4 separate regions of the Homo sapiens genome follow, and all the other regions are linked to region 1. The links come from fine-mapping of genetic effects on gene expression. A gene starts in region 1. Each other region holds a variant in brackets. All regions are shown on one strand. Distances are from middle to middle.

Region 1 (5,556 bases):
TGAGCTCCTGACCACCTGATATCAGAATGAGCATTCACGGGGTGAACACAGTGTGCTTCAGTGTTCCCATCTGTATAATGGGAGTTATGAGCTCTACCTTACAGGTTCAAGCTCTATCTTGGATGTGGAAAAAGGAGCCTATAGATGCTTTTTAAAAAGGGACTTGTCACTACCCACTCAAGTTATCCCCCTCCCCGCCCCAAAACCCCCCAGGCCCTAAATACAGACTCTCCAGACTCCTCCTTATCCATCAAAGCCCTGCTATTGCTATTTCTCTGGGGAGTGGGTATTCTTCCCCATACCATAGTCTCCCTAGTCTAACCCCCCAACCCCAGCTCTAACACCCACTACAACAGGTTTACACTTTGACTGCAGGTTCCTCATATTTACACCCCACCCAAGGCCCAGCCCATGGGAGTTACTCAAAAATTAGCTGCTGAAGTTTTTTGTTCCTTCTGGAGTTCAGTGTTCCCCCTCTGTAAATGGATACAACTAAGATGCGATGCTTGCCAAGTTAGATGCTACACAGAGAAGACAGCTGGTGCAGGAGCCCCGGTAGTCATGGCTATTCTGCCTCCCACTCTCCCATCCAGACAGGGTGAATTCTCAGGATGCCAGGCTTCTGGCCAAGGCTTCTCAATGCACAGAATAGTCCTGTTTCACCCTAAGTACCCCTCCCAGTCAAAGACCCTGTGTACTGGGGCATTCTAACTTAGCCTGGCACCTAAGTGCCCTTCTGCTCCTCAGGTAAAGGTGGGATGCATCTCATCCACAAGCCTGGCAACAGCCACCAACCCCTGAGTCAAGCCAGCTGACTATCTCCCAGCCAGGAACACAGTGTGCCAGTCTCTTCTAAGAACAGCATCCCCAGCAGGCCCCATTCTCCCTCATTCTACCGCCTACCCCTTCAGGCTCTGTTGCTCATGCCAGGCAAGGAGGAGTTGCCAGACCTTTCCAGCAAAGACTCCTGGAGTGGAGACACTCCTTTACTGGATACTTTCCAGGGTCTTCTCATTTCTTGCTCACTGACTCAGAGGCAGCAAAGTAGTGATTTGGGGTCCCATTTCACAGATGGGGAAAACTGAGCGAACTGACCCAGGGGTGCATAGTCTTTCCCACCTCAGGATGCTGAAGGAGCCCTCGAAGGCTTAGACCACTCACCTGAGCCACATCCAATAGGTAGATCTGAAGGAAGAAACCCAGGGCACAGCCCGTCACCTGGTAGGGGGCTCCCCCAAGTGCATAGCAAAGCTTGTTGCAAACAGACAACTGTTGTTTCTTCTTTTTCGGTTCTTTCTGGGAAGAGGAGGAAAAGATGAAAGGCCCAAGGTTCTGGCCTCCATCCAAGAAGGTTCCACAGGAAGGACCATCCCTCTGGCCAGCTCTACCAGAACAAACAACTCTGCTTTGACCTGTTCCTATCCAGGAGATCCCACCTTTTTTTTTTTTTTTTTTTTTTTTTTTTTTGAGACAGAGTCTTGCTCTGTTGCCCAGGCTGGAGTGCAGTGGTGCCATCTCGGCTCACTGCAAGCTCCGCCTCCTGGGTTCACGCCATTCTCCTGCCTCAGCCTCCCAAGTAGCTGGGACTACAGGCACCCACTACCACACCCAGCTAATTTTTTGTATTTTAAGTAGAGACGGGGTTTCACCATGTTAGCCAGCATGGTCTCGATCTCCGAGATCCCACTTTATACAAAAGAAAGGTGTTCTCCATTCTTAGGAACATGGAAAAGGGGAATCCATACTTGTGTGAAAGTAGCCCCTAAGCCACCTCCCTCCTGGAGATTCTAAGGAAACTTATCAGCCCACCATCCCTAAAGAACTCCTCCCAAGGCCTCAGGCACTGCTCCTTTCCAGGTTTCAGGGGGAGCATGCTCCAGCAGCCGACCTGTCCCCACCCGGCACCAGCTGCCACAACCTGAAAATCCGCTTGCTGCCAAGAGCTGCCTGAGCCCAGCCCAGGCTCCCACCCTGCCTCAGAGACAGGATCCACCTGCCTACTCCTGGTGAGAGCTCTAGAGAGCTACGGGGGCCCGGCCCAGCTGGCTGCAGGCGCAGCTGTTCCACCTATCCCAGAGCATCCCTGACCACTATAGGCAGCCAGAGCTTCAGGCGGACCCAGGAACTGTCCTACTCTCCAGCTTCCCGACCCATCGCCCTCCACCCCTGAGCTCCTAGAGGACCTTGGAGACGGGAGGAAAGGCCTCCAGGTTCAGGCCTGATCCCTCTCCGGGTGGGGCACTAGGGAGGTTGGGTTGCCCAGGGAAAGTAGATATTACTCATACATAGTAACAGCATAATTGCTCACCCAGCTCCTTCCAAAGATCAGTTAATAAAATTAAAAGGAAAAGGCAGTCACCTCCCACGAAGGTATCTATTGCCTGAGATCCTTTCCTAGGGGGCCGCCTCATTTTATTTGGTCCTTCAATAAGTCCCCAGGGCTGGGGATGTGGTCGATGGTCTCGATGCGCAAAGCACCGTTCCCGCGCGAACATCCACATTCAGACAAATGCCTGAGGGACGCGGCTCCTTTAAGAGCAGAGCTCTTGTTCTTATGAATGAACTTGAGCGGCCCTAACAGCAGAGTTGAGGCGCAAGAGTAGGTGGGTGGAGTGGGAGGTAGGGGATGAGAGATGGGGAACCAAGGGGAGTTTCCCAGATTTCTGGGGTCATCTCTGGGGTTTGGGGCGGCAAGCCCCAGCCGCTCAACACGGAAGAATGGAAACCGGCTAGGCAGAGCGGGGAATCACATGGGGCTGCCGGCAGAGCCTCTCCGCAGAGCGTGGAGTGCGGGTGAGCAAAGGGGGGCGAGGGCGCCCACAGCTTTTCTCCGTCACCCCCTGTCCCAGGGCACCCCCAGGTCCTCTCTGGCTCGTAGGCTTCCTGTCCCTGGCTATCCCAATGGTCCCCTGACCAGGCCGACCCCGGGACGCCCCTGATCCCCCATTTCCGCCTCCTCCCTCCCCTCGCCCTCCACGCGGGGTGCCGGGCCCTCACCTTCACCTGGGCCGGGCGTTCAGTGCTTTGGAGGATGCTGGTGGGTAGCAGCCCCGCCGCGGAGCCGCTCTCGGCGCCTTCTCCTTTGGCCATGACCCGCGGGCCACGCCGCTTGGGACCTGGTAGACGGGATGCTCCTCTGCCCCGCAGGCCGCTGCTCCTCCCAAGCTCGCTTCGTAGCAGCCTTAGCCACGGCCGCCGCGCGCTAGCCAAGCCGGCTGGCAGACGAGGAACGCACTCTGCTGCACGCCCCCTCCGCGCCTCTTATAGTTCTGCCCAGCCCTCTCGGTTGCGGCCAATCCCCGAGCCCCGCTGCCCCGCCTCCAGCCAATCCCGTCGCCCGCCTCCCTGCCCCCGCCTCGCCCGGCGGCTCTGTGCCACCGAGCCACGTTCTCCAAGCCCCGGAACCGGCATCTGCCTGCGCTGGCTCCTAGCAATCCGAGAAGCAGGCCGCGAGACCTCCCAGACACGCGCGAGGAAACCGAGGCCCCAGGCTGAAAGTGATCTGCCCGGGGTCCCCGATCTGCCCGAGGTCCCCGAGGTCCCCAAGGTCCGACTCTCCCCGAGTCGGGCCTACCACCCATGACTTCTGAGCCCCAGGCCTAGGAAAGGTAGGGGCTCTGAAGCCCACTTTAAAATCTGGAGTCAGGGCCTCTCTCCTTCTTCAAGCCTAGAGGACGTACGCTGACACTTTCCCTCCTGATGCCTCTCTCTCATCCCCGAAGACACACCATTCCCCCGTCCTGCCCTTGGCATCCGGGCAATGGGGAGAAAGATGAGGCAATCCAGTGGCTGCCCCTGCCAGAAGGGAGCTCCCAAGTCGTGGAGAGAAGCCGGGGCTACGCCCGCTAGTACACTATGACAACAGTGGCCTTTTTATGGATAGCTTCCTCCATGCTTAATATGATCTCTTTCGGCCCTCAAAAACCACCAAGTGAGGGTGGTACTATTATTATCCCCATTTTACAGCACAGGAAGGGGAAACTTGGAGAAGTGAAGCAACTGTTATGTAGCAGAGCCAGGCCTGAAAGGTTTTGTCCGATACCAAAGCAGTTGCTCTCAACAGCCCTGCTCTATCCCTCTTAGCATAAATTACAGACGGCAGAATGGGGTGTATGTGTCTCCCAACAAGAAGCCCTGGGAGATACATGGCTCCAGAGGCACTGAGGGTTGAAACAGGGAAAGTTTTGAAAAAGAGAATGCCCAGAAATGTGGTCCTCAAAAGAAGATGGGAGGGCATTAGTTTGGAACAGAAGGCAGGCACGGATGCCAGAAAAGAACAGTCTTTAGTTCCACCTCTGAGTCCCTTATGTCAATGTCACCCCGGTCTTTCCAGTTCTCTGATTAGTGAAGGGGCTGCTGGAACTCTCAAAGGCTACCCACCCGGTTCCTGTGCTCCTTAATGTCAGCCTCCTTCTTCCTTTCTTTAAATCTCTGATTGCAGGGAGGAGAGATAAGGTCTATCTGCCCCAGGATGGTCACACCATGCTCCCTCATACGCCAGCAGATCCCATCTGGGCACACAGCTCTTGGCCATTGCTGAGCAGAAGAGAGCCAAAGTGAGGCACTGAATACTGTGGAAAGGGAATGGCTGGCCCCATTACTCCAAGCTGTGTGACACTGTTCTGTCTCTTTTCCCCTCTCCAGGCTTGGTTAGCTAAGCTCCCTTGCAGCCCCCAAATCTTCTCTCCCACAGTCACACCATACCACAAGTGATCTGTATCCCCCGGTTGACAATGAGCTCCTCAGGTAGGAACCGCATCTTTTTCACTTCTGTGTCCCCACCAACTAGCTTAGGGCCTGAATTATTGTGTTCAGTGAATGAATGTTCAGTCTTCCCCTGCTAAGGTACAAGCACACAGAAACCCATTAGGAAAAGCCCTAAGTGTCTCCATTTACTAGCTGTGCGGCTGACTCTGAACAACTCAGTTAACCTCCCTGTGTAAAATGGTGATATTAATAGTAGCTACTGGCCAGGCACCCTGGCTCACGCCTGTAATCCCAGCACTTTGGGAGGCTGAGGTGGGTGGATCACGAAGTCAGGAGTTCCGGACCAGCCTGGCCAATATGGTGAAACCCTGTCTCAACTAAAAATACAAAAATAAGCCGGGTGTGGTGGGGCACACCTGTAGTCCCAGGTACTCAGGAGGCTGAGGCAGAAGAATCGCTTGAACCCAGGAGGCGGAGGTTGCAGTGAGCCGAGATCGTGCCACTGCACTCCAGCCTGGGTGACAGACAAAGACTCTTGTCTCAAAAAAAAAAAAAAATTAATAGTAGCTACCTAATAGATTTGTTTTGGGGATGAAACAAGAAAATGCACAGGAAGCATTTAGCACAAGTGCCTGGGAGCTGAAGCTGGGCTGGTCCCCCTCCTGGCCTGATTCCAGTCTGTCAGTGTAGCAACGCAAGATTCCAGATATGGCCTGACCAAGCCAGCACAATAGGCCTATTATTTTTTCCAGTCTGGATGCGACACATTGTTAATGCAGCCTAAGACTGCTGGGCTTCAGAGCCTTTCTCTCCCATGATTAGTTCCCATCAGGTTGTGGTCAACTAAAT
Region 2 (5,270 bases), 270 kb after region 1:
CCCAATTTCGGGTGGGATATGGGTGTGGGGGGGGGTCTCATCTTGTGACTCATCCCCTCTTCCGCCCCCACCCATGCTGGGGCCCAGGAAAGGAAGCTTAGAGATTCGGCTGTGGTTCTCCCGTTTCCATAGCAACGGTGAGGTTGTTTTTGAGAATCCACTTTCATCGTCGACCCTTTCCACCCCAGACTTGTAAGCCGGGGGCTGAGCCTCAGGGCAGGGGTGCAGATGGGGGTGCAGCCCTCCCGCTTCCCGGCGACTCCGGGAAGGTCAGCGCGGGCAGGCGGGGCGCGCTCCTGCGGCCGGGCCTCGCCGGCCACCCGGTCCCCACCTGAAACCCCGCCTGCCACTCCGCTCCAGAGGAGCCAATAGCCGTGCAACCTGCCCGGGATGGGGCGGGGCTTATGCAAATAGTGTCGCCTTCGGGAGGCACATAGTGATACAAGAGCTGGAAGGCGGCTCCGGCGCAGACCTTGGAGAGCACAGCTGCCGGCCCGCGAGCCAGCCTCGGTTCCCGCGGCCCGCCGAGGCTCGGAGCCATCCAGCGACCCGGCGACCGGCCTCAGGTAATGCGAGTGGGACCGGGTCCTCAAGGCAACAAACCCACCGGGCGGAGGCCCTGGCCCCCTCCCCCTCCACTCTCCCTTCCCATCCTCATGTCCTGCCCTGATTCACCTCCCTGACCCGTGGTTCCGCCTTAGGCGGCAGCAACTGAAGAGCCCACCCCTGGGCAGGAGACCCCCCACCTCAGTCCAGGCCCATGGGTGCAGAGAAGGAGGCAGAGCCGCCTACTTATCCCCAGCTCAGGTGAGAACAACCATTGCTATGGCCCCCAACATACACGCGCGCAAACACACATACACACACAGATGCACACACACACATCTGGGGGTGTGGTGGCGCTGGTGCTAGCTGGAGGCGCTGGTCACCCTCCCTCCTGTTTGGATATGGGTTGTCTGCCCAGCACCATGGCAAACTCCCACCTCCACGGATAGCCCCTAGCCACTTCTCATCAGGGAGCCCCTGCCCCCAAAGACAGCCTCCCCCTCCACAGAGCGCTCCCTCCTTGTTGTCCCCAGACACTGTCCCCACATCCCACCCCTCAAGCTGACAGAGCCCACAGCATACCTGAGGGGGGGACAATCCCCCTTCCCCAGTTTTTCTCCTCACAGTCTCGACAGCCCTCCCCAGTGGCCCCCAGTGCTAGGCAGAGGCCCCATATTTGGCATCTCTCATCCTGGCGGGAGGATGAACCAAAGACACCACCCCCAGCAGACCACCCATACCGTCAGTCCAGTTGCTGCCAAGGCCCCAACCTCCATACCTCCTCCCTCCCCCCTCACAGCCAGGCACCAAATCCTCTCATTCTGCCTGTCAAATGTCTTTCTAATTTGTATGACTATTTGCTCCCTCTCTCCCACCTTCCTGCTGCTCCGTGGGGACCTTGCCAAGGTGCCATGTGGGCTGTATTGCTCTTGGCCCTAAAGTGAACTATACCTGGAGGGCAGATGAGCTGGGTTCAAATCTTGTACAGCCAAAGTTTGACTTTGGCCAAGTCACTCCCCTCTCTGATCCTTCATGAAAATGGGGAGAGGTATAACAGAGAGGGTAGACTGGGTGAGATGAACTTGAACAGCCTTCTGGCACTGAGACACTCTGGTTCTATGGCTGATTATGGAAAAACAGGATCCTGAACCAAGAGGACATTAAAGAGAGGAGACCTGAGGGGGGCGGGGTTGGTTTAGAACTCACTGAAGACACATTCCTTCTTAACCAGCCTAGGTACAGGCTACCTCCTCCCACACATTCTCCAGGCCCCTTCTATTAGGAGTCCCTCCTAGACCACCAGCCCATCCTGACATGGACAGCTCCAAATTGTAGGTGGCCAGCTGGGATTACTCTTTGTTTGTCATCCCCTGCCTCTCATTAAGAAGAAGAGGGAAAAGACCTGGTTGCTGCTGCTATTGCTGCTGCTTGGGGAAGAGCAAAGGGAGGAGAGGAAAGAGAGAAAAAATCTCCTGACCAGGGAGCTATTGTCACCATGGCAACCACCTCAGTACCAGCTCCTCTGAAGCTGGGTGAGGGTGTGGGATTATTGCCTCCTTCAGTCCCTCCCATTCAAAGCCTCAGCCACCTCTCCATTCAAAGCCCACAGCCCTTAGCCCTCTTGAAGAAACCTCTGGGCACACTGGGACAATGGTTTTGTGTATGGGACAGTCCCAGCTCCTTCATAGCTGGAGGACAGCCCTCAAGAGGTAAGCAGAGGAGCCTGCCCATGTTCAGCAGGGCCACAGCTCCAGCAGAGCATGTCCCCAGCTGGGTTCTGGCCTTCACTTTGCTGCTGATGGGCTATAGTTGACCTGGGGTGAACCCTTCCTTCCCCTAGGTCTGGGTTCCATTGTCTCTGAAGTGGGTGTGATAGCAGGAGAACACAGATAAACAAAACAGCCTGACATAGATCCAGGGAGGAAGAAGGGGGTTCTGCTCCTCTTACGTAATCCACCAAGAGACATTCATTGAACATCACTGTGTCCTAGGCATTGCCACTGCGTCTCCACAGAGCAGTTCTGTGCAGGCACAGAAGGCAGGGTGGGAACCAGGGTAGGGGAGCTATAAGAGAGAAAAAACCCCTGCTCTCATGGGTC[C/T]CAGACTCAGTGAGGACTAAGCACTCACTGGGAGAAGTGAGTGCATAGGGAAAAGCACTTTTATTTTCCCCATGGGAAAAATAAACTTTTCTCACGCTTCAACCTGCTCAAAAGTGGACTGGGGCATATTGGAGGGGATCAACTCCTTGCCATTGAGCAAAAAGGTCTGGAGGATTTTTTTTCTGACTCAGGCAGGGGTTTAATGCAAAGACCTGTCTCAAATCAGACTGCATCCTGGAATTCTACAGCACCAGGTGAGGGTCAGAGGGCTATGAAGTCTACACGCCTGTGGGGGACTGACTCATGCCCAAAGTGCTGAGCTTGGGCTGCTGACTCTCCACTGTCCAGACTGGAAAAGGCTGATCATAAGGAAGCAGGCTTCAACCAGGCCCTGAAGACTGATTATAGTCCAGGAGAGAAGAAAGGATATTAGGGGAGAGGAAAATAGCTTAGCAAAGAGGTGAGGCGTGTCTGGCTGTGAGAAGGCTGGCTTGAGAGGAGTATGCGGTGGTGAGTGAGCAATGAGAGCTGAGGCGAGATAGGTGGGCACTTTGAGACCAGATTCTAGAGGATTCTAGAGTTTCAGGGGGCCCATGGGCATGGCTACTTCTAGTCTATATTGTAACTTTCGGGGGGAAAAAGCCATTCCCTCCTAACAGAGGAATCAAAAGAAAGGCACTTCCTGCCAGGCAGGGAAGCCCCATGGGCATGAGCATAGCTTGATTTCAGCCCCCTCGGCTGTGTCCCTGGCTATGGACATAATGAAGGTACCAAGAGCATTTCAAAATAAGAGACAACAGGACTTGATGGCAAGTTAGACCTAGGGCAAAGGGAAGGGAAAAAATGAAGGTAACTAAGATTGTGTTCCCCACACCCCGGGGATGAGGGAGAGAAGGAAGGGGCAACAGAGACAGTCTGACCATCTCTGGTTGGGAGCGAGTCTGGCTGTAGACTTGCTGTCTCAGAGGTGCTGGTGGACACCCCTAGGGTGGCTATCTCCTGGGTGTCAGAGATTGTGGCCCCAGATGGTTCCACTGCGGCCAAAAGGGAGATCAGAGCTCTGATTTTCCCAGAGGGCAGATGTGGGTGGAGAAGGTCTGTGCTGAACAAGAGTAGCCATGATTTGGAGACGGTGGCCCAGGCAGGTAGCACGGATTCAGCCTGAGTGCTCATCTGGGCCCTCCCACTGACCTGCTGTGTAACCCTGAGCCAGTTTTCTCCTATCTCTCAATTTCCATTTTCACTGAAATAAGGGGATGATCTTAAAGGGCACGGCCAGTTTTGACCTTCTTTTCTTAATTTTTTATTTACTTATTTTTTTTTTGAGACAGGGTCTTGCTCTGTTGCCCAGGCTCGAGTGCAGTGGCTCAATCACGGCTCACTGCAGCCTCAACCTCCTGGGCTCAAGTGATCCTCCCACCTCAGCTTCTGAGCAGCTGGGACTACAGGCACATGCTACCATGTCTGGCTAATTTTTAAATTTTATGTAGAAACAGGGTTTCCTTATCTTGCCCAGGCTCAGCTTTGACCTTCTGATGATCTAGAGGGAATGAGGAGAAATAAAGGAGGAGGCATAGTCTGGGTCTGAGACCCAATAAAAGCAGGGAACAGGAAGGACCCTAGGAGACAGAGAATTGTGGAGAAGGCAGCACAGAGCAGGGAGGAGAAAAGGGGTATAAGGTGAGAGCCACACAGACACTGTGACACACACAGAGAGACGTGTGCACTCTGACAGATTTGCAGCCTCAGACATTGACATGCTCCCACACACAGACCCAGCCCCTCATGCTGACTCTCAGGCACATCCTACGGAAGACAGCTGGAGAGGCTGTGCCTCCCCCCATCAGACATCTCTGCCTGACTTCTCCAGCTTCCTTGACTATACCCTGAGCCTTGAGAGTCCTTTGGATTTGGGAGAGGGGTGAGGCCTGCCTCCTTTTGCCTATGGGTGTTCCAGAGGCATCCTTGCTCTGGCCTCAGTGTAGCCATTTTCCGCCCAGCCTCAGGTTCCTGAAGATGGCATGCTCCCCCTCCCTGGCTTTTCCTGAGGGCATACAATTCCTCATCCTCTGGGAGTGGGGAAGGATGTTGCTACCTGCACTGCTCCTTGGTCTTCCTTATGGCCCAGTGGAGGAATCTGAGGCCCAGAGAGGATCTGTAACTAGCCTGAGGTCAGCCCAGCAAAGGGGAGTGGGAAGGAATGGACCAACCTCAGATTTGCTATTTAGTGTTTTCCCAGTTGTAAGAATTAGAAGCCCACTGGCAGACATCGGGCTATGGGAGTGGAATTCCTTCTGCCAGCCCAAGGGCTTCCTTTTCCAGAGTATCTTGAGGACAGGCTACCTGGGGTGGGAGCCTGACCCTCTTCCAAAGAGACTCTAGGCAGGTCAGAGGCACCTCCCAAGCCATGTCCTGGGAAACCCAGACTCTGCAGGGACATTCCTCCCAGGGAGGTCAGAGAGGAGGGTCCACTCTGCCTTCAAGGTCTGGCCACACTTCCTGAGGAGGGCCTGTACCTCTTCAAACACTTCCCCTGGCACAGCCCACTTACGGGCTCACATTCCCACTGGGGAATAACTCTTGATCCTTCCCAAACCTGCTTCTCAGCAACAACACTTCTATCCA
Region 3 (5,556 bases), 35 kb after region 1:
AAAAAAAAAAAAAAAAAAAAAAATCAGACCTCCACGAATAAGTTTACTGAGAGTCTGAAGGAACTCCCCAAACCTCCATGATTTAGCAGGAGTATGGTCCCTGCGATCATGGACTATGTTTTTGTGCACTAACTCCTGCCGCAGCTCGATAACTGATGGATGCACGAATGAGTGGATGCGTGAATGAATGAAAGCCAGCGCAGATCTAGTATCCTCTGCCCGGTTAATACCTGTCTGAAAGCCGCGGGCCCTGCCCCAGCAGCGGATGCCAAGAGCGCGAGCCAGAGGTCACAGAAGCTCAGCGGGGAGCGGGGCTCGCACAATGCAGGTGCCGGCTGCTCCCTCCCTTCCGCCGCTTTGAGGCTCTAGGACAACCTTGGAGCCGCTTCCTGCGCGCAGCCTGGGGCCTGCGACGTCCGGCTGCCGACCCCCACCTCTGCCTCCTCCAAGCCACAGGCCTAGGTTGTCGGGGAGGATGGGTGGGGGTAGAAGCGCCCCTTGCTAGGCTTGGAACATCTGGCCGAGTCCTGGGCGGAGGGCTGCTGTCCAGTCCCTGGTCCACTTCCCGGCTGTGTGACTGGACACATCTGCCAACTGTGCTGTAATGGATTTGTTGCCTCCTAGTCCCGCCCCTCCTTCTGACACACAGGGTGTCAGAGTAGACCCGCACTCAGAACCGATTTGAATTCGGCACTCCCCATCCCAAGTATGAAAACAATAATAGCTTTGACATCATGGAACACCTTCTAGGTGATGGAAACGCCCAGCTGAGAGTTTTGCATGGATGATCCTATTTAATCTTCACCACGGTCAGGCATGATAAGCAGGAATCTCCCTATTTGACAGGTTAGGAGACAAGACCAGTTTGGTTTAGGTGCCTTTCTCAGGTCACACAGTTAGGGGTGGCGCAGCCTAGATGTGCCTAACTCCAGTGTCTTGCTTGTTCCTGGGTTTTCTGTGTGGCGGCTCCAATACTTAGGCCCAGGGACTTGAGCCAGGCCTGAGGATATGAACCGAGGTGGGGGCTTCCCTGCCCTTCATAAAGCTTCCTTTCTGATGGGGGATGATCGTTCTAGCACTGGATGATCACCAACCTTACTTCGTTGCTAGGCAGACAGAAAGGGATGCCTGAGCACTTAAGTATAGACCAATTTCCGGTGGATGGAACAGTTGCGCAAAGCTGGAGTCAGGGTGGGAACTTCCAGGTCACGTTCCTGCAACAACACAACAATGCTCCCATGATGCCCCCAACAACTTCTACCAGCTGAAATGGGGTGCTCCCTCCACAGGGATATCTCTGAGTGTGTCTGTGTCAGCAAGACCTCTGGAAAATTCCATGTCCTCCCCATAACACCTGATGTGGGGATGCCTAAGCAGCGATAGCCTGGCAAATGTTTAACAAACTGGAAGGTGGGCGGCAGGAGGTGGGGAACCCTGATTTGTAGCATTTGTGGGTTTCCATGAAGTAAATAATCTGCCATGACCAACTGCAAGCTACCAAAGTTGAAGTTGGGCCGGGCACAGTGGCTCACGCCCGTAATCCAAGCACTTTGGGAGGCTGAGGCGGGTGGATCACTTGAGCTCAGGAGTCTGAGACCAGCCTGGCCAACATGGTGAAACCTCGTCTCTACTAAAAAAATACAAAATTAGCCAGGTGTGGCAGCAGGCACCTGTAATCCCAGCTACTTGGGAGGCTGAGGCAGGAGAATCACTTGAACCCAGGAAGCACAGGTTGCAGTGAGCCAAGATCGCGCCATTGCACTCCAGCCTGGGCAACAAGAATGAAACTCCATCTCAAAACAAAACAAAACAAAACAAAACAAAACAAAAAATCAAAGTTGAAGTTGGACAGTAGCAAACCACTACATAGTACTTTCACCATAACTGATATGATAGGCAGATAATAGTAAAACATAATAAAATAATTAGGGATTGATTTTTATTTTATTTATTTATTTTTGAGACAAGGGCTCATTCCATCACTAGGCTGGAGCGCAGTGGCGCAATCACAGCTCACCGCAGCCTCGATCTCTCAAGCTAAAGTGATCCTTCCACCTCAGCTTCCCAAGTAGCTGGGACTACAGGCGCTCACCACTATGCCCAGCTGATTTTTGTATTTTTTGTAGAGATGGGGTTTCACCCTGTTGCCCAGGTGGGTCTCAAACTCCTGGGCTCAAGTCATCTGCCCACCTTGACCTCCCAAAGTGCTGAGATTATATGTGTGAGCCACCATGCCCAGCCAATATAGTTTATTTAAATGTAAATTTATATAGTTTAATTTTTACTTTATTAATTTTGTGCCCTAATTCCATGACACATTATAATTTTTATTTTTTAATTTTAATTTTATTTTTTATTTATTTTTTTTTGAGACGGAGTCTTGCTCTGTTGCCCAGGCTGGAGTGCAGTGGCATGATCTCAGCTCACTGCAACCTCCGCCTCCCAGGTTCACACCATTCTCCTGCCTCAGCCTCCCGAGTAGCTGGGACTACAGGCGCCTGCCACCACACTCGGCTAACTTTTTACATTTTTAGTAGAGATGGGGTTTCACCGCGTAAGCCAGGATGGTCTCAATCTCCCGACCTCGTGATCCGCCCGCCTTGGCCTCCCAAAGTGCTGGGATTACAGGCGTGAGCCACCATGCCTGGCCTTTTTTTTTTTTTTTCTCTCTCTTTTTTAAATTTGAGACATGGTCTTGCTCTGTCTCCCAGGCTAGAGTGCAGTGGTGCAATCATAGCTCACTGCAGCGTGGACCTTTCAGACTCAAGTGATGCTCCCATCTCAGCCTTCTGAGTAGCCGGGACTAGAGGTGCACACCACCATGCCTGGCTAATTTTTTGATTTTTTTGTAGAGACAAGGGTCTCCCTATGTTGCTTAGGATGGTCTCGCACTGGGCTTAAGCGATTCTCCCACCTGGGCGTCCCAAATTGCTGGGATTACAGGTGTGAGCCACCGTGCCCAGCTATAATTTAATATTTAATGACCAAGTTTACCAACCAGCTCTCAAGATTCCTGAAAATGCAAGAGTCAATTCTCACTAAGCTGATACAAGCCAGTTCCAGCACAGCACTGAACCTAGATCACTGGGTCCACTGGCTCCTGGGGCCGTCAGCTCCTTCTGTTTCCTCCAGCCTCAGGGCTCCCACGCATCTAGCCTGGGTTTCCCTCCCCATCTCTCTAGCCTGGGTTTCCCTCCCC[A/G]TCTCTCTAGACTGGGTTTCCCTCTAGTGGACAGAATTGTTATTTCCAGGTGATTATCTTGCTCCACCTGTGCCCAGAGCTCAGCACCTTAAGAAGGGTGCGGAGGAAGTTTGTCATCAATCCTCCTTAAGACCTTAAGGGGCTGCTCTGCCTATGGAATAGCCATTCTTTTATTTCTTTGCCTTCTTGATAAACTTGCTTTCACTTCAAAAAAAAAAAAAAAGTACCTTAAAAAGGGTACATAACAGTCTCACAATTGCCCTCAAGCACAAGTCACTTAGTATTATGTCCCCGTGAGGGGGAGTGCCAGGAGGGCCTCCTTGGGCTTTAGTCATTATCACAATCTCCAGAGCTGCTCAGAAATCCCATCTCATCCTCTGTGTGGCAGCTCAGGCTGGCTATATTAGCCCTTCAGGTTTGGGGAATACCCCGCCTGACCCTGACCCCTGCAATTAATTAGCTCTATCTCTGAGAAGGTAAACTGGAAGATTCAGTTTGTGTTAGGAATCAAGCTCTCACACAATTCATAGCCCACTGGGGAAACACTGATGGAGGCCATTCATGTGTTGGGCAAAGATGAAACCATGGAGTCTGTTAGATGCAGATCTGGGGCTCAGGATGCTGCATCCTGCATTACACCAGGACTCTTTTCTCCCAGAAGTGATCTTTCCAAAGCACAGATATATCTGTCACTCTTCCGTTCACAAGCCTCCTATGATTCTCCAATGCTTTCAGCTTTAGTACAAGTTCCTTAGCCAGGCTTTGAGGGCCTTGATTGGGACCTTACCCAGATTGTTTACCTTAAATGTCCAGGCCAGGTGCGGCAGCTCACAACTGTAATTCCAGCACTTTGGGAGGCCGAGGTGGGCAGATCACGAGGTCAGGCGATCAAGACCATCCTGGCCAACATGGTGAAACCCCATCTCTACTAAAAATATAAAAAGTAGCTGGGCATGGTTGCATATGCCTGTAGTCCCAGGTACTTGGGAGGCTGAGGCAGGAGAATCCCTTGAACCTGGGAGGCGGAGGTTGCAGTGAGCCAAGATCGCACCACTGCATTCCAGCCTGGCAACAGAGCGAGACTCTGTCTCAAAATTAAAAAAACAAAAAGAAGAAGAGAAGAAAACTGACATTTTTGGAATTCTCCTCTGTGCCAGGCACTGTGCTAAAACTTTGCAGTTTAATTTAATTCTCCAATAATGCTGCTAGATAGGAAAAAACCTCTCTAGAGATGAGAAAACTAAGGGTCAGTACAAGCCTGCTCACCGTAACACTGCTTCAGAGTAGTTTTTCCTTCATCCTACTTCTGTTTATTTTTTTTTTTTTATTTTTTTGAGATGGAGTTTTGTTCTTCTCACCCAGGCTGGAGTGCAATGGCGTGATCTCGGCTCACTGCAACCTTTGCCTCCCAGATTCAAGCAATTCTCCTGCCTCAGCCTCCCGAGTAGCTGGGACTACAGGTGCCCGCCACCACACCCGGCTAATTTTTGTATTTTTAGTAGAGACGGGTTTCATCATGTTGGCCAGGCTGGTCTTGGAACTCCTGACCTCAGGTAATCTGCCTGTCTCAACCTCCCAAAGTGCTGGGATTACAGGCGGGAGCCACCACTCCTGGCCTGTTCTTGAAAGCTGCTGTTTTCTCTCTAAGCCTGGTCCCTTCCCCAGGTTGGCTGCAGAGGGAGACACAAGATCTCCTGAACCCCTTTTTCACTGAACTTAAAGCAAGGCCACATTCCTTAGGGTTCTAAGGAAAGCACAGCTTTGCAGTGAAACCCAAGCCAAGGTAACAGAGCCACAGATATAGGATAAGAAACCAGATTTTACACCTGGTTAATTCTTCTGGGGCCAGCTCCAGAGCCCTTCCTCTTCCTAACTCTCCCCTCCCTAAATCTTTTTTCTCCTCCTCTCCCCTCTTCACCTCCTTACTTCCACTAAAATCCTAGACATCTTATGGATCAGATCAAATTTCCCTCCTCCAGAAAGCCCTCTCAGACAACCTGGATCAGGAATCTGCCTAATGAAAATAAGAATTGTTGGCCGGGCACAGTGGTTCACGCCTGTAATCCCAGCACTTTGGGAGGCCAAGGTGGGCGGATCACGAGGTCAGGAGATCGAGACCATTCTGGTCAACAAGGAGAAACCCCATCATTACTAAAAATACAAAAATTAGCTGGGCATGGCGGCTCATGCCTGTGATCCCAGCTACTTGGGAGGCTGAAGCAGGAGAATCGCTTGAACCTCGGAGGTGCAGATTGCAGTGAGCCAAGATCGTGCCACTGAACCGTAGCCTGGCGAGACTCCATCAAAGGAAGGAAAAGAAAGAAATAAAGGAAGAGAGAGAAAGAGAAAGAAAGAAA
Region 4 (5,556 bases), 48 kb after region 1:
AGAAAAGAAAAGAAGAGAAAAGAAAAGAAGAAAAAAGAAAAGAAAAGAAAAGAAAGGAAAAGAAAAGAAGAAAAGAAAAAAAAGAAAAAGAAAGATGTACTCATACTGACAGTTGAGGAGTCCCCTGCTAGGTACCTGCCTAAAACCCTTTAGTGAAGCTCAGTAATCAAATACCTCCCCACACACACATATAGAGCTTTCAATCAGCTTTTAATGCCTCACTGTTTTGTTTTGTTTTCTTTAACATGTGGTCTCACTATATTGCCCAGGCTGATCTTGAACTCCTGGGCCCAAGCAATCCTCCTGCCTCAGTCTCCCAAGGGATTACATATGCACACCACCATGCCTGGCTCTACTCTGTAATATACATAAACATCTATACCAAGGATTATCGGATGTTTGAGAAAGCCTCTAATGAAACACACAGAGCAAAGTAAGCAAGGGAGAAGTCAGAGAAAACAGGGAGCAGGAAAGACTTTCAAAATTTATAATAAGTATGAAAACTATTATTAATAGCCTCAGAGGAAAATGGGAAAAAGATTGTGTCCATGGAAAAAGAACAGGAAGCTCCAAAAAGGGAACATTTAGGGAACAACAAGAAAAAGAGGTCTTAAAAATTAAAAAATATCAGTCAAAAAATGTTTAAGTTGAGAAAAGGATTGGAAGTTGAGAACATGAATAAAAGGATTGGACGTTTGGCTGGGTGTGGTGGCTCACACTAATAATCCACCTATAATCCCAGCACTTTGGGAGGCTGAGGCAGGTGGATTGCTTAGCTCAGGAGTTTGAGACCAGCCTAGCAAATATAGGGAAACCCTATCTCTATTTTTATTTTAGAAAAAAAAAAGGATTAGAAGTTTGACTCCTAGGAAGTTGAACAGAACACATAAAGGTAGAGATGAGAGAAAAGAAAAGACAAGACAGGAGTTTCAGAGAGGGAGAAGGGAAAAAAAATGGAGGGGAGGAATTTCCCAAAGGAATAATTACAGAGTGAATTGGTTTCCATATTAAAAGATTTAGGGCAGCTGGGTGTGGTGGCGCCTGCCTGTAATCCCAGCACTTTGGGAGGTCAAGGCAGGCAGATCACTTGAAGTCAGGAGTTCAAGACCAGCCTGCCCAATATGGGGACACTCCATCGCTACTAAAAATAACAAAATTAGCCAGGCATGATGATGGGCACCTGTAATCCCAGGTACTTGGGAGGCTGAGGTGGGACAACTGCTTGAACCCAGGAGGTAGAGGTTGCAGTGAGCTGAGATTGTGCCACTGCACTCCAGCCTGGGTGACAGAGCAAGACTCCGTCTCAATTTAAAAAAAATAAATAGCAGGGCATAGTGGATCACGCCTGTAATCCCAACACTTTGGGAGGCTGAGGCAGGCAGATCACGAGGTCAGAAGATCGAGACCATCCTGGCTAACATGGTGAAACCCCGTCTCTACTAAAAATACAAAAAGTTAGCCGGGCGTGGTGATGGGCACCTGTAGTCCCAGCTACTCGGAAGGCTGAGGCAGGAGAATGGCGTGAACCCAGGTGGCAGAGCTTGCAGTGAGCCAAGATTGCGCCACTGCACTCCAGCCTGGGAGACGAGCGAGACTCCATCTAAAAAAAATAAAAATAAAATAAATAAATAAATAAATAAAAAGGCTTAGCGCAAAGAATTCAAAAAGATGCTGCAATGCAATTCTGACACTATCTAGAGTTAGGCCAAACTTCACAAGTTAATGGCACAGTCTCCACAAGACTGCCTTCACTTCAGAAACCAGCTATTAATAGAAGCTCAGGGTTTCCCAGGCCACCCACACTTCTGACCAAATGACTACAAATCTGGGGGTTCCCACTACCTACTTAGGTTCAATAATTCCACAGAACACCAAACTCAGGAAAGCACTAAACTTATAGTTACAGTTTTATTATAGCAAAGGCAATACAAATCAGGACCAGGCAAAAGAAGAGACACAAAAGGCAAGGTCTTGGAGGATCCCAAACTTAAAGCTTCCAGTGTCCTTTTCCCGTGAAGTCAGGATGCATCATCCTCTGGCACATTGATGTGTAACAATACACACAGACTATTATTAACCAGAAAAGCTCACCAGAGCTTCAGTGTCCAGAGTTTTTATTGAGGGTTCATTATGTAGGCACGATTAACTGAATCATTGTCCAGATTATTTAACTAAATCTCCAGCCCTCTTCCCCTGCCCAGAGGTCAGATTGATTATCAAGTGGCTCAAAAGCCCAGCACTCTAATCACATGGTTTGTCTTTCTGGCATGGACAGCCCCTATCATGAGTCATCTTAAACTATCTAGGGGTCCCCCATGGGCCACCTTATTAGCATAAGCTATCAGTGCCTGCCATAAATAACAGACACACCTATTACCTGGGAAATTCCAAGGATTTAGAGGTTACCTCCAAGGAACTGGGGAGAAAGGCCAATAAATTCTTTATTCCAACAGACCCACACCAAGGCACATCATTGAAAACATTTAAAATGCCAGGGACAAAGAATATATCCTAAAAGCTACCAGAGAAACAGGTCACATACAAAGGTTTGTAGATAAAATGACATCAGTCTTCTCAATAGCAATACTGGCTGCTAAGAAACAGAAAAAAAGTACTTTTAGAATTCTCAGGGGAAATTATTTTCTAATCTAATATTCTCTAGCCAGCCAAACCATCAACCAAAGGGTATACCAAAGAAAATTTCAGAAACACAAAGTCTCAAAACTTTTACTTCCCAAGTACCTTTTCTCAAAGCAGCTGCTGGAGGATATGCTCCACCAAAGTGAGGAAGTAAAAC[G/T]AGAAAGAGGAAGAAACAAGCTCCAGAAAACAGGGGATGCGACACAGGAGAGAAGCAGAGGGAATTTCCAAGATGATGGTAAAGGGAAGTCACAGGATGACAATTGTGAAGCAGGCCAAGAGATCAATAAGTTCAGACTAGAACAGGAAGACAAAGGACTCCAACCAAGATGATTCCTAGAAAAAAAATGTAACTGATAGACTGATTACCTAGTGTGTTTGACCATATGGAGTAATCTTTGTAGCTCTAGTGGGAATGTGTAGGGTTAAATTCATAATAGATATGTAGAAATCTAAGCAAAAGAAAAACTGAGGCAATTTAACACTGAAAAAAAATATTGTATAAGAAAGGAATTATAAACTGGGTACAGTGGCTTAGGCCAGCATTTGGGGAGGCCCAGGCAGGAGGATCACTGAGCCCAGGAGTTCAAGACCAGCCTGGGCAACATAGTCAGACCCTGTATCTACAAAAAAAAAAAGAAAAGAAAAGAAAAAAAAATTTTTAATTAGCCAGGTGTGGTGGTGTGCACCTGCAGTCCTAGCTACTAGGGAGGCTGAGGTAAGAGGATCGCTTGAGCCCAGGAGGCTGAGACTACAGTGAGCCAAAATGGTGCCACTGCACTCAAGCCTGGGCAACAGAGTGAGACCTTGTCTTGAAAAAAGAAAAAAAAAGAAAGTAAAGGAAATTTAGGCTGGCTCTGGAAGCTCTACCTATGAGTATGAGTTAGGCTTGCTCTGCAAGGGCAATTTAAAAAAAGAAAAAGAAAAGAAAAAGAAAAAGGGCCGGGCATGGTGGCTCACGCCTGTAATCCCAGAACTTTGGGAGGCTGAGGTGGGTGGATCACCTGAAGTCAGGAGTTTGAGACCAGCCTGGCCAACATAGTGAAACCCCATCTCTACTAAAAATACAAAAATTAGCCAGGCATGGTGGCGCACACCTGTAGTCTCAGCTACTCAGGAGGCTGAGGCAGAAGAATTGCTTGAACTCAGGAGGTAGAGGTTGCAGTAAGCAGAGATCATGCCATTGCACTCTAGCCTGGGCAACAGAGCAAGACTCCATCTCAAAAAAATAAAGAAAAAGAAAGAAATTTAAAAATCAGGAAAAAGTAGATCTCTGTATTGGTCAAAATATGGAAAGAAATATGAGGGACAGTCCTGGCATGGTGGCTGAGGCAGCCAGATCGCAAGGTCAGGAGTTTGAGACCTGCCTGACCAACATGGTGAAACCCTGTCTCTACTAAAAATATAAAAATTAGCCGGGCATGGTGGCACACACCACACACACACACTCAGTGATGTGAGCTGAGATCACATCACTGCATTCCATCCGGGGCGACAGAGTGAGACTTTGTTTCAAAAAACAAAAACAAAAACAAAAAACAAAAAGCTAAAACAATAGCTGCCTTTGGGGAGTGGGAATCAGTTGATGGCAAGACAGAAGATGGCCTTTTTTTTTTAACTTTGCCATATGCCTAATTGATTTTTTAAAAAATTATTACATGTATTTTGATTAAAAACATATTTTAGAAAAAATAAAGGAAATAAAATATTGCAGAAAAATGGAAGGTCCCTGGGGTAGCATTTGTTACCTTGGTAAATTCATCAGCATCCTGGGTCCAGCTTAGAAACCAGAGTTGTTAGCCCTAAAAGCAGCAGCATCTCTACAGAACAGACACACATTAACCAGGTTCATGAGACTGATATTGCAAATCAGATGCCAATTCATTAATTTATAAGAGGAAGCAGGGCTTTGAAGCAGACTGGATCTTCCTGTTCAATGATGAGTGCATTCTCTCCCTGTGGACTGATCTACATAGGAAACAGAATGGTTTTTAGAGGGTTGCTTGGTGATCCAGAGCATGAGTGAGGTAGGGGGTGAATTGAGTGGCTCCAAAGAATGGTACTTCCATCTCCCTTTTTCCTGGACCAGCATCTTTGTCCCCAGAGAAGGGACACTGCTGGTGATTGTCTTGGCAACTCTCCCTGATCTCTGGCTTCCTTGGCTGCCCAGACCCTCCTAACTGGCACCCTCTTTCTTTAGCTGCATTAATACTTTTAACCAGGTTGTAGTCTAGACTGGGCCTGAGAGTTCTTCTGTCTCTATAAGGTATAGTTTGGCTCTGCGTCTGCAACCAAATCTCATCTCGAATTGTAATCCCCATGTGTCCAGAGAGAAACCTGGTAGGAGGTGATGGATCATGGGGGCAGTTTCCCCCATACTGTTCTTGTGATAGTGAGTGAATTCTCACGAGACTCGATGGTTTTATAAATGGCAGTTTTTCCTGCACTCACACCCTTTCCTGCTGCTTTGTGAAGAAGATGCTTGCTTCTCCTTCCCCTTCTGCCATAATTGTAAGTTTCCTGAGGCCTCCCAAGCCATGCGGAACTATGAGTCAATTAAACCTCTTTTGTTTATAAATTACTCAATCTCAGGTGTTTCTTTACAGCAGTGTCAAAACAAACTAATACAATTGGCATATCTCTACTTTAAAGCATTAGAGGTGAGATGTGGTGGCTCACATATGTAATCCCCGCACTTTGAGAGGCCAAGGTGAGAGGATCACTTGGGCCCAGGAGTTTGAGACCAGCCTGGGCAGCATAGGGAGACCCCATCTCTACAAAAAATTAGCCAAGTGTGGTGGTGCATGCCTCCTATGGTCCCAGCTACTCAGGAGGCTGACGTAGCAGGATCCCTGGAGCCCAGGAAGTCAAGGCTGCAGTGAGCCATGATTGCACCACCGCACTCCAGTCTGGGCAACA

Direction of the effects. Alleles are on the strand shown, and positions count from the first base shown. SD is a standard deviation of normalised expression in the study named. Not every link is listed here.
With allele T in place of C in region 2, the expression in nucleus accumbens of the gene that starts at base 3,238 in region 1 is lower (small effect, 0.35 SD a copy in GTEx).

Evidence for each region.
Region 2: its variant is fine-mapped to the expression of MFSD2A in nucleus accumbens (GTEx, PIP 0.99).
Region 3: its variant is fine-mapped to the expression of MFSD2A in whole blood (INTERVAL, PIP 0.94).
Region 4: its variant is fine-mapped to the expression of MFSD2A in whole blood (TOPMed, PIP above 0.99).

What each region holds. Positions count from the first base shown.
Region 1 is chr1:39,952,827-39,958,382 of GRCh38, reverse strand. It overlaps MFSD2A (MFSD2 lysolipid transporter A, lysophospholipid), which reads right to left and starts at 3,238. Exons shown (of 14, transcript NM_032793.5): 1 at 2,998-3,238; 2 at 1,162-1,296. The coding sequence starts at 3,090. RefSeq lists a silencer at 3,287-3,416.
Region 2 is chr1:39,686,602-39,691,871 of GRCh38, reverse strand. HPCAL4 (hippocalcin like 4) reads left to right here and starts at 439. Exons shown (of 4, transcript NM_016257.4): 1 at 439-566. RefSeq lists an enhancer at 1-60 and silencers at 133-362, 583-662, 1,937-2,163. The variant C/T (reference allele first, on the strand shown) is at 2,646.
Region 3 is chr1:39,917,347-39,922,902 of GRCh38, reverse strand. No RefSeq gene overlaps it. Among named protein-coding and RNA genes, the nearest start is that of MYCL, 18 kb to the right of the region's middle. The variant A/G (reference allele first, on the strand shown) is at 3,200.
Region 4 is chr1:39,904,996-39,910,551 of GRCh38, reverse strand. No RefSeq gene overlaps it. Among named protein-coding and RNA genes, the nearest start is that of MYCL, 5.9 kb to the right of the region's middle. The variant G/T (reference allele first, on the strand shown) is at 2,798.